Homo sapiens: one gene and its partner. The protein of the gene in region 2 interacts with the protein of the main gene of each other region in a pairwise test. Each region holds a gene or a part of one and is shown on either strand. Other genes may lie near its edges.

The links. The genes of interacting proteins can lie anywhere in the genome.
Region 1: the proteins of UMPS (region 2) and ZNF227 interact in a two-hybrid assay, tested with the Homo sapiens proteins (one large-scale study listed by BioGRID and IntAct).

Annotation. Positions count from the first base shown.
Region 1 is NC_000019.10:44,221,821-44,227,009, reverse strand, and holds part of ZNF227 (zinc finger protein 227), read right to left. Parts: intron 1-5,189. UniProt on the Homo sapiens protein: May be involved in transcriptional regulation.
Region 2 is NC_000003.12:124,736,383-124,741,571, reverse strand, and holds part of UMPS (uridine 5'-monophosphate synthase), read right to left. Parts: intron 4,005-5,189; coding exon 3,333-4,004; exon of another isoform or gene 3,129-3,332; intron 1,549-3,128; coding exon 1,373-1,548; intron 1-1,372. UniProt on the Homo sapiens protein: Bifunctional enzyme catalyzing the last two steps of de novo pyrimidine biosynthesis, orotate phosphoribosyltransferase (OPRT), which converts orotate to orotidine-5'-monophosphate (OMP), and orotidine-5'-monophosphate decarboxylase (ODC), the terminal enzymatic reaction that decarboxylates OMP to uridine monophosphate (UMP).

The DNA of each region.
Region 1 (5,189 bases), on a different chromosome or scaffold from region 2:
AATACTACAAAGATCCTTTTACAGAGCTCATGGCCAAGAAGTAGCAACTGCAAAGTCATAGAATATTTACTTTAAAAGTTTTGAGGGGTGGAGCCAAGATGGCTGAATAGGAACAGCTCCGGTCTACAGCTCCCAGCATGAGCAATGCAGAAGACGGGTGATTTCTGCATTTCCATCTGAGGTACTGGGTTCATCTCACTAGGGAGTGCCAGACAGTGGGCGCAGGGCAGTGGGTGCAGCACACTGGGTGTGAGCCAAAGCAGGGTGAGGCATTGCCTCACTTGGGAAGCACAAGGGGTCAAGGAGTTCCCTTTCCTAGTCAAAGAAAGGGGTGACAGACGGCACCTGGAAAATCAGGTCACTCCCACCCTAATACTGCGCTTTTCCAATGGACTTAAAAAACGGCACACCAGGAGATTATATCCTGCACATGGCTCGGAGGGTCCTACGCCCACAGAGTCTCGCTGATTGCTAGCACAGCAGTCTGAGATCAAACTGCAAGGAGGCAGCGAGGCTGGGGGAGGGCGCCTGCCATTGCCCAGGCTTGATTAGGTAAACAAAGCAGCCTGGAAGCTCGAACTGGGTGGAGCCCACCACAGCTCAAGGAGGCCTGCCTGCCTCTGTAGGCTCCACCTCTAGGGGCAGGGCACAAACAAAAAGACAGCAATAACCTCTGCAGACTTAAATGTCCCTGTCTGACAGCTTTGAACAGAGTAGTGGTTCTCCCAGCATGCAGCTGGAGATCTGAGATCCGGCAGACTGCCTCCTGAAGTGGGTCCTTGACCTCCAAGCAGCCTAACTGGGAGACACCCCCCCAGTAGGGGCAGACTGACACCTCACACAGCTGAGTACTCCTCTGAGACAAAACTTCCAGAGGAACAATCAGGCAGCAGCATTTGCAGATCACCAATATCTGCTGTTCTACAGCCACCGCTGTTCTGCAGCCACCGCTGCTGATACCCAGGCAAAAAGGGTCTGGAGTGGACCTCTAGCAAACTCCAACAGACCTGCAGCTGAGGGTCCTGTCTGTTAGAAGGAACACTAACAAACAGAAAGGACATCCACACCAAAAACCCATCTGTACATCACCAGCATCAAAGACCAAAACTAGATAAAACCATAAAGATGGGGAAAAAACAGAGCAGAAAAACTGGAAACTCTAAAAAGCAGAGCGCCTCTCCTCCTCCAAAGGAATGCAGCTCCTCACCAGCAATGGAACAAAGCTGGATGGAGAATGACTTTGACGAGTTGAGAGAAGGCTTCAGACGATCAAACTACTCCGAGCTTCAGGAGGAAATTCAAACAAATGGCAAAGAAGTTAAAAACTTTGAAAAAAATTTAGACAAATGTATAACTAGAATAACCAATACAGAGAAGTGCTTAAAGGAGCTGATGGAGCTGAAAGCCAAGGCTCGAGAACTACATGAAGAATGCAGAAGCCTCAGGAGCCGATGCGATCAACTGGAAGAAAGGGTATCAGTGATGGAAGATGAAATGAATGAAATGAAGCGAGAACGGAAGTTCAGAGAAAAAAGAATAAAAAGAAACGAACAAAGCCTCCAAGAAATATGGGACTATGTGAAAAGACCAGATCTACGTCTGATTGGTGTACCTGAAAGTGACGGGGAGAATGGAACCAAGTTGGAAACACTCTGCAGGATATTATCCAAGAGAACTTCCCCAATCTAGCAAGGCAGGCCAACATTCAGATTCAGGAAATACAGAGAACGCCACAAAGATACTCCTCGAGAAGAGCAACTCCAAGACACATAATTGTCAGATTCACCAAAGTTGAAATGAAGGAAAAAATGTTAAGGGCAGCCAGAGAGAAAGGTCAGGTTACCCACAAAGGGAAGCCCATCAGACTAACAGCGGATCTCTCGGCAGAAACTCTACAAGCCAGAAGAGAGTGGGGGCCAATATTCAACATTCTTAAAGAAAAGAATTTTCAACCCAGAATTTCATATCCAGCCAAACTAAGCTTCATAAGTGAAGGAGAAATAAAATACTTTACAGACAAGCAAATGCTGAGAGATTTTGTCACCACCAGGCCTGCCCTAAAAGACCTCCTGAAGGAAGCACTAAACATGGAAAGGAACAACCAGTACCAGCCACTGCAAAATCATGCCAAAATGTAAAGACCATCAAGGCTAGGAAGAAACTGCATCAACTAACGAGCAAAATAACCAGCTAACATCAAAATGACAGGACAAAATTCACACATAACAATATTAACTTTAAATGTAAATGGGCTAAATGCACCAATTAAAAGACATAGACTGGCAAATTGGATAAAGAGTCAAGACCCATCAGTGTGCTGTATTCAGGAAACCCATCTCACGTGCAGAGACACACATAGGCTCAAAATAAAAGGATGGAGGAAGATCTACCAAGCAAATGGAAAACAAAAAAAAGGCAGGGGTTGCAATCCTTGTCTCTGATAAAACAGACTTTAAACCAACAAAGATCAAAAGAGACAAAGAAGGCCATTACATAATGGTAAAGGGATCAATTCAACAAGAGCTAACTATCCTAAATATATATGCACCTAATACAGGAGCACCCAGATTGATAAAGCAAGTCCTGAGTGACCTACAAAGAGACTTAGACACCCACACAATAATAATGGGGGACTTTAACACCCCACTGTCAGCATCAGACAGATCAACGAGACAGAAAGTTAACAAGGATACCCAGGAATTGAACTCAGCTCTGCACCAAGTGGACCTAATAGACATCTACAGAACTCTCCACCCCAAATCAACAGAATATACATTTTTTTCAGCACCACACCACAACTATTCCAAAATTGACCACATAGTTGGAAGTAAAGCTCTCCTCAGCAAATGTAAAAGAACAGAAATTATAACAAACTGTCTGTCTCTCAGACCACAGTGTAATCAAACTAGAACTCAGGATTAAGAAACTCACTCAAAACTGCTCAACTACATGGAAACTGAACAACCTGCTCCTGAATGACTACTGGGTATATAACAAAATGAAGGCAGAAATAAAGATGTGTCTTTGTTCTCATTGGTTTCAAAGAACAACATACCAGAATCTCTGGGACGCATTCAAAGCAGTGTGTAGAGGGAAATTTATAGCACTAAATGCCCACAAGAGAAAGCAGGAAAGATCCAAAACTGACACCCTAACATCACAATTAAAAGAACTAGAAAAGCAAGAGCTAACACATTCAAAAGCTAGCAGAAGGCAAGAAATAACTAAAATCAGAGCAGAACTGAAGGAAATAGAGACACAAAAAACCCTTCAAAAAATTAATGAATCCAGGAGCTGGTTTTTTGAAAAGATCAACAAAATTGATAGACCGCTAGCAAGACTAATAAAGAAAAAAAGAGAGAAGAATCAAATAGACCCAATAAAAAATGATAAATGGGATATCACCACTGATCCCACAGAAATACAAACTACCATCAGAGAATACTACAAACACCTCTACGCAAATAAATTAGAAAATCTAGAAGAAATGGATAAATTCCTCAACACATACACCCTCCCAAGACTAAACCAGGAAGAAGTTGAATCTCTGAATAGACCAATAACAGGCTCTGAAATTGTGGCAATAATCAATAGCTTACCAACCAAAAAGAGTCCAGGACCAGATGGATTCACAGCAGAATTCTACCAGAGGTACAAGGAGGAGCTGGTACCATTCCTTCTGAAACTATTCCAATCAATAGAAAAAGAGGGAATCCTCCCTAACTCATTTTATGAGGCTAGCATCATCCTGATACCAAAGCCAGGCAGAGACACAACCAAAAAAGAGAATTTTAGACCAATATCCTTGATGAACATTGATGTAAAAATCCTCAATAAAATACTGGCAAACCAAATCCAGCAGCACATCAAAAAGCTTATCCACCATGATCAAGTGGGCTTCATCCCTGGGATGCAAGGCTGGTTCAACATACGCAAATCAATAAATGTAATACAGCATATAAAGAAACCCAAAGACAAAAACCACATGATTATCTCAATAGATGCAGAAAAGGCCTTTGACAAAATTCAACAACCCTTCATGCTAAAAACTCTCAATAAATTAGGTATTGATGGGACATATCTCAAAATAATAAGAGCTATCTATGACAAACCCACAGCCAATATCATACTGAATGGGCAAAAACTGGAAGCATTCCCTTTGAAAACTGGCACAAGACAGGGGTGCCCTCTCTCACCACTCCTATTCAACATAGTGTTGGAAGTTCTGGCCAGGGCAATCAGGCAGGAGAAGGAAATAAAGGGTATTCAATTAGGAAAAGAGGAAGTCAAATTGTCCCTGTTTGCAGATGACATGATTGTATATCTAGAAAACCCCATTGTCTCAGCCCAAAATCTCCTTAAGCTGATAAGCAACTTCAGCAAAGTCTCAGGATACAAAGTCAATGTACAAAAATCACAAGCATTCTTATACACCAATAACAGACAAACAGAGAGCCAAATCATGAGTGAACTCCCATTCACAATTGCTTCAAAGAGAATAAAATACCTAGGAATCCAACTTACAAGGGATGTGAAGGACCTCTTCAAGGAGAACTACAAACCACTGCTCGATGAAATAAAAGAGGATACAAACAAATGGAAGAACATTCCATGCTCATGGGTAGGAAGAATCAATATCGTGAAAATGTCCATACTGCCCAAGGTAATTTATAGATTCAATGCCATCCCCATCAAGCTACCAATGACTTTCTTCACAGAATAGGAAAAAACTACTGTAAAGTTCATATGGAACCAAAAAAGAGCCCACATCGCCAAGTCAATCCTAGGCCAAAAGAACAAAGCTGGAGGCATCATGCTACCTGACTTCAAACTATACTACAAGGCTACAGTAACCAAAACAGCATGGTACTGGTACCAAAACAGAGATATAGATCAATGGAACAGAACAGAGCCCTCAGAAATAACGCCACAGATCTACAACTATCTGATCTTTGACAAACCTGAGAAAAACAAGCAATGGGGAAAGGATTCCCTATTTAATAAATGATGCTGGGAAAACTGGTTAGCCATATGTAGAAAGCTGAAACTGGATCCCTTCCTTACACTTTATACAAAAATTAATTCAAGATGGATTAAAGACTTAAACATTAGACCTAAAACCATAAAAACCCTAGAAGAAAACCTAGGCATTACCATTCAGGACATAGGCATGGGCAAGGACTTCATGT
Region 2 (5,189 bases):
ATCCAAAGGCAGCTGTCATGTAAAGAACAGCTACGCTTTCAAGAGCTAAAGAAATCTCACCTCTACCACTTTCCCTCTTCTGTAACATCAACTGGTCTCCCCAATTTCTATACTATTATCTCACATTCATAAAAGTCTCTTTAGAAGGTCTGCCTGGCTTTCTGATTCGGTAGGTACTTTCCCCGAGACGTGACTCCCATACTTCCCTTCTTATTTGATACTTCCCGGAGACCAGACTCAGTACCACCACTGCACTCCAGCCTCGGTACTTCGAGACCTGAGACACACATTGATACATTCATTCTTGCCACCAAGTACTACTGCCAACAAACAAGTCATGTCTTGTCCTTGAGCCAGACCCAGACTCCCAGAATGCCAAATATTAAAACTGACTCATGGCCCCTGTGATTTTGAGACTTGGGAAATCAGACAGTTATAGTCAATTCAGGGATAGGGTTAAAACCTGACTGTAGGGCCATATGAGTTAAGTCTCCAAATAGTCTGAAATAATATGAAAAAATGGAAATCCTTTACTTCTAGAATCTTCACATGGGGATTGTCTTGGGGATTTCATTTTTAAAAAAATCATGGGGATTTTCTTGGGGCTTTTTATTTTTAATTTTTTTTGACAGGCTCTTACTCTTGCCCAGGCTGAGGTAAAGTGGCATGATCATGGCTCCCTGCAGCCTTGAACTTCAAGCTCAAGCGATCCTCCCACCTCAGCCTCCCAAGCAGCTGGGACTATAGGCACGTACCACCATGCCTGGTTATTTTCTTTTTCATTTTTTTGTAGAGACGAGATCTCACTATGACGTCCAACTCCTGGCCTCAAGCAATCCTCCCGCCTTGGCCTCCCAAAGTGCTAGGATTACAGGTGTGAGCAACTGCGCCCAGCCCCCTATGGCAATTTTTTTAAAGTAATATTATATTCTAAAATATCTGACAAGAATAAGAGAAAGCCACTGCATGTGGGCTGCTGTCATGGGAATGTGCATCTCTGTAGGACTTGGGAGATTCTGAGAAACTGCATGTCTGGGAAGCTCTTCTCATCTTCTCTCAATTCATGGTAAGATGAAAAAGACATTATCTTAAAGTCCTGGTAGATTTAGTAAGTGTTTGTTTGACTAACTATCTGGGTCTCAAAGTTTCTCTTGGAGTATAATTCAAATTCCTGAAGTGTCCACTACATGATATAAAATGCTATTAACTATCAAGGAATTCTATCCAACTAGTATTAATATACTGTCACACTAACAAGAGCTGGATTTTTTTTTTGGCAGAGGTTCCAGAAACGCCAGATTAGGAGATATCTTCTTGCAGCATGCAGCATAGCAGCCCCTGCCCCCTCTCACCCAGTCCCCCCACCACTTACCGCTGCTCTAGTGTAGTCCCCAGTGGCCAGGGAGCCGGTGGAGCTCATTTCCGCAATAAGGAGGCACCCCCGATGCAAAGGCAGGCCCACTTCTTGCAGGCCTTTCACAACTCCTGAGCCTGGCACCACGTGAGCATTTACTAGATCTGCCCAGGAAGCTATTTTAAAGATACCTCCTAAGAAGAAGGGGGAAAAAAGATATTTGCTGATTTTCAAACAAAACCTCTAACGTCTTGTCCAACCAACCAACTACAATATGAAATAATCTCCCAGTAACATGTTAATGAGAGAATCAAAACTCTTCAGGAACTTTAGTGATTATCAGCAGACCCATGGTTCCATCTGTGAAAACTGTATCTGTTATTCAGGTAAGTAGCTGGGTGAGAGATCACAATGAGAAAAAACTTTCAAGGTCTGCACTTGGCTTATCTGGAACACTAACAGGACTCTTTTTCCTTGAAGGCTGAAGCTCATGACCACAAATAAAGCTCATGCTATTAGAAAGGGACTCCAGTGAAGATAAACATTTATTGATGTCAAGGATAACATTTAAAAATTCCTCTTGAAGCTGGGCATGGTGGCTCATGCTTGTAATCCCAGTACTTTGGGAGGCTGAGGTGGGCAGATTGCTTGAGTTTAGGAGTTCGAGACCAGCCTGGGCAACATGGCAAAACTCCATCTCTACCAAAAATACAAAAAAATTAGCTAGGTGTGGTGGCGCATGCCTGTGGTCCCAGCTACTTGGGAGGCTGAGGTGGGAGGATCACTTGAGCCCAGGAGGTGGAGGTTGCAGTGAGTCAAGATTGCACCACTGCACTCCAGCCTGGGCGACAGAGCAAGACCCCATCTCAAAAAAAATAATAATAAAAATAAAATTCTTCTTGAAGATGACAAGTTTTCACTCTGCAGGGGTCTCTCAGCAGCTTTACTATCGCTCAATATTTCTACGTGTTCCTTAGATCTCCTTAGCTATCTAATTTCAATAGGCAACTATATTCCTTTTAAAAGCGGACAGTAACAAGCCTGATTTTCGAAAAAACTCTATGCAGAGCTGAAGAAAGTTTGTATAAAACTCTTATGTCAGTCAATCAGCTAAAGTAAGCTAGGCAATGTGATGAGGGCAGGACATCTTAAGCACATGAAGAAGTCACTTAAAGACAAATCTATTTTAAAGAAATAGCTTATGAACATGCATACATTAAAGAAAAGTTACCTCAAAGATGCCTACAAAAAATGTTATATGACACAACCAAATATCTGTTACCAGGTTAAGTGAAAAATGCATTAAATATAGTCTGATCACACAGTTGTAAAAACATAGACAGAAATTTGCATAGAATAGGCAGTAGAACTAAGCATTTTTCTCAACCAACACATGCACTACTTTGAGTCCCTATTTGATAAAAGAAAAATCTTTAAATAATGTTTATCAATAGAACTTTTTCTGCTACAAATAAATCTTACCATTTTATATTTCTTTTTCATTGTTTCCTTTATGTGGAATTTTCATTCAAAACATCATATTCTGCCAAGGACATCTGTCAAATTTGCTTGCCCAGGCACATACCCTTCTTCTGGTACTAGCACATCCATTTTCTTTAAGGAAATTATCCCTGACTGGTTCTTATTTCAAGAAGGTCATACAGAGTTAACAACCTCACAGTTGCAGAGCAAATTGCCCAGGCTAGTTAATGAAGGTATTCTACATCCCAAGCTAGAGTGATTGGTTTGGGGTGAGCATGCAGAGTATGCCTACCTGAGAAAGAAGTCAACAGAGAAGAAAGCAGAGCTGAGAGATGGAGAGAAAGCAAGTCATGAAGATATCACTTGAGCTCCTGGATCCAACCACGCTTGACAGCCTGCTCTATGAATGGACTTTCAATGACATGAGCATTTCCTTTTTCTTCTTCAGTTTAAGCTGGATTTCTGATTCTTGCAGATTCCTGAATAATACACTTACCTTCATACTGCTTTTTCACTGTGTTTCCTATATCTGCAAACTTCCGGTCTTCAAATATCAAGAACTCATGGCATTTTGCCAGAGTTATCAACTCCTTCATCACATCCAGAGTAAAATCATTCAAAATATCTACATGAGTCTTCAGCATGCAGATACTAGGTCCTAAAGCATCTGCTAGCTGCAACAGCTCTCTGGCCAGTGAAACATCAGCAGATAGACACAGATTGGTCTCCTTCTTTTGCATAAGCCTGAGAAGCTTCGATGCAACTGGGTGGATCCTGGGCAGCTCTGCACGTGCACCGAAGCTGAGTTCTTTGGGTGCTTCCTTTATAGAAAGGGGAGAACCATTATGATTCGCTGCCACAAAGACATTCTCCTGAATAAACCTCTTCACTCTCCCAACTGTCTCAGCATCAACTTTTTTCTGCTGCTCGAGAATCTCCAGCATTTTGGACAATGTACACACTGAGTGGAGGCGGATCCCGTGCGCCTGCAACTTGTCCTTGCCTCCCTGCTCTCTGTCCAACAGCACTATGGCATCAGTGACCTTCAAGCCCTCCTTCTGAAGAACCTCAACAGTTTCCAAAACACTAGATCCACTGGTGACAACATCTTCAATGATTAAACAGGTTTCTCCTGGATTAATAGTTCCTTCTACAAGACGCTTAGTTCCTAGAAAAGAAAAAATTTTGCTGATTCCAAATTTAAATATGTATGTATATGTGCGTATATACGTACACACACTCTGTATACAAAACTTGCCAGTTACACATACAGTATATGTGTATACCAATTCTGTATACCAAACTTGCTAGTTGCACATACAGTATATTTATGTATAAAGCCAACTCTGTATACCAAACTTGCCAGTTACACATACAGTATATTTATAGTAAATCAAGTAAATTATTTCACATTATAAACACTGCTTAATGTGTTTTATGATCAAATTTTCAAATAGAGAGGTTTTTTTTTTACTTTAAAAAAATCTGTTTTATCATAGAGATGAGGTCTCACTATGTTGTCTAGGCTGGTCTTGAACTCCTGAGCTCAAGTGATCCTCCCGCCTCAGCCTCCCAAAATGCTAGGATTATAGGTGTGAGCCACCACGTCCAGCCTAAATACAGAGTTTCTTACAGCAAGATCACCTAGATCAAGGAAAGTTATGAAACAGAATAATCCAGTATCATGAATGAAATAATTCCTTTTTCCATCAAAGTATTTTAAGTTCACTATTCAAGATCAGCCAAATAATTGACTTTTTGAAGACACAAATTCAGAAGGAAAAATATTCAGCAATCATTTAGACCCATTACTACAATCTAAAGAATTATATAATGCAATGTGATTAAATATATACTTCTCTACCCAAATCCCACTAGACTATTTTCAGATAATCTACAAAACGTAAATAACTTGGGCTGTAGACTTTAGACTCATCAAATCCTTTCCGCTTCTTGAACAACTGGTAAGTTTAACTGAATCAGCTTAAGCTAGAACACAAGACTGCAAGTATTTATAGTATATTTAAAAATGCATAATTTCATAGAAACAGTTTTTAAAACATAAAATAATAGAAATAAGAGTTTTCTTATGGGTAGGGATTCATACAGTTTTTTTTTAGCTCAGAAAGTCTCAGCTGGGTGCAGTGGCTCACACCTGTAATCCCAGCACTTTGGGAGGATGAGGCAGGAGGATGGCTTGAGACCAGGAGTTCAAGACCAGCCTGGGCAACAGAGTGAGACCTTGTCTCAAAAAAACAAAAAACAAAAACAGAAAAACTAACACTGCCCTTACGCCACAAAAACTCAACTAATATGTTTCTTTTTTTTAATCATAAAAATTTTCAGAATGCAT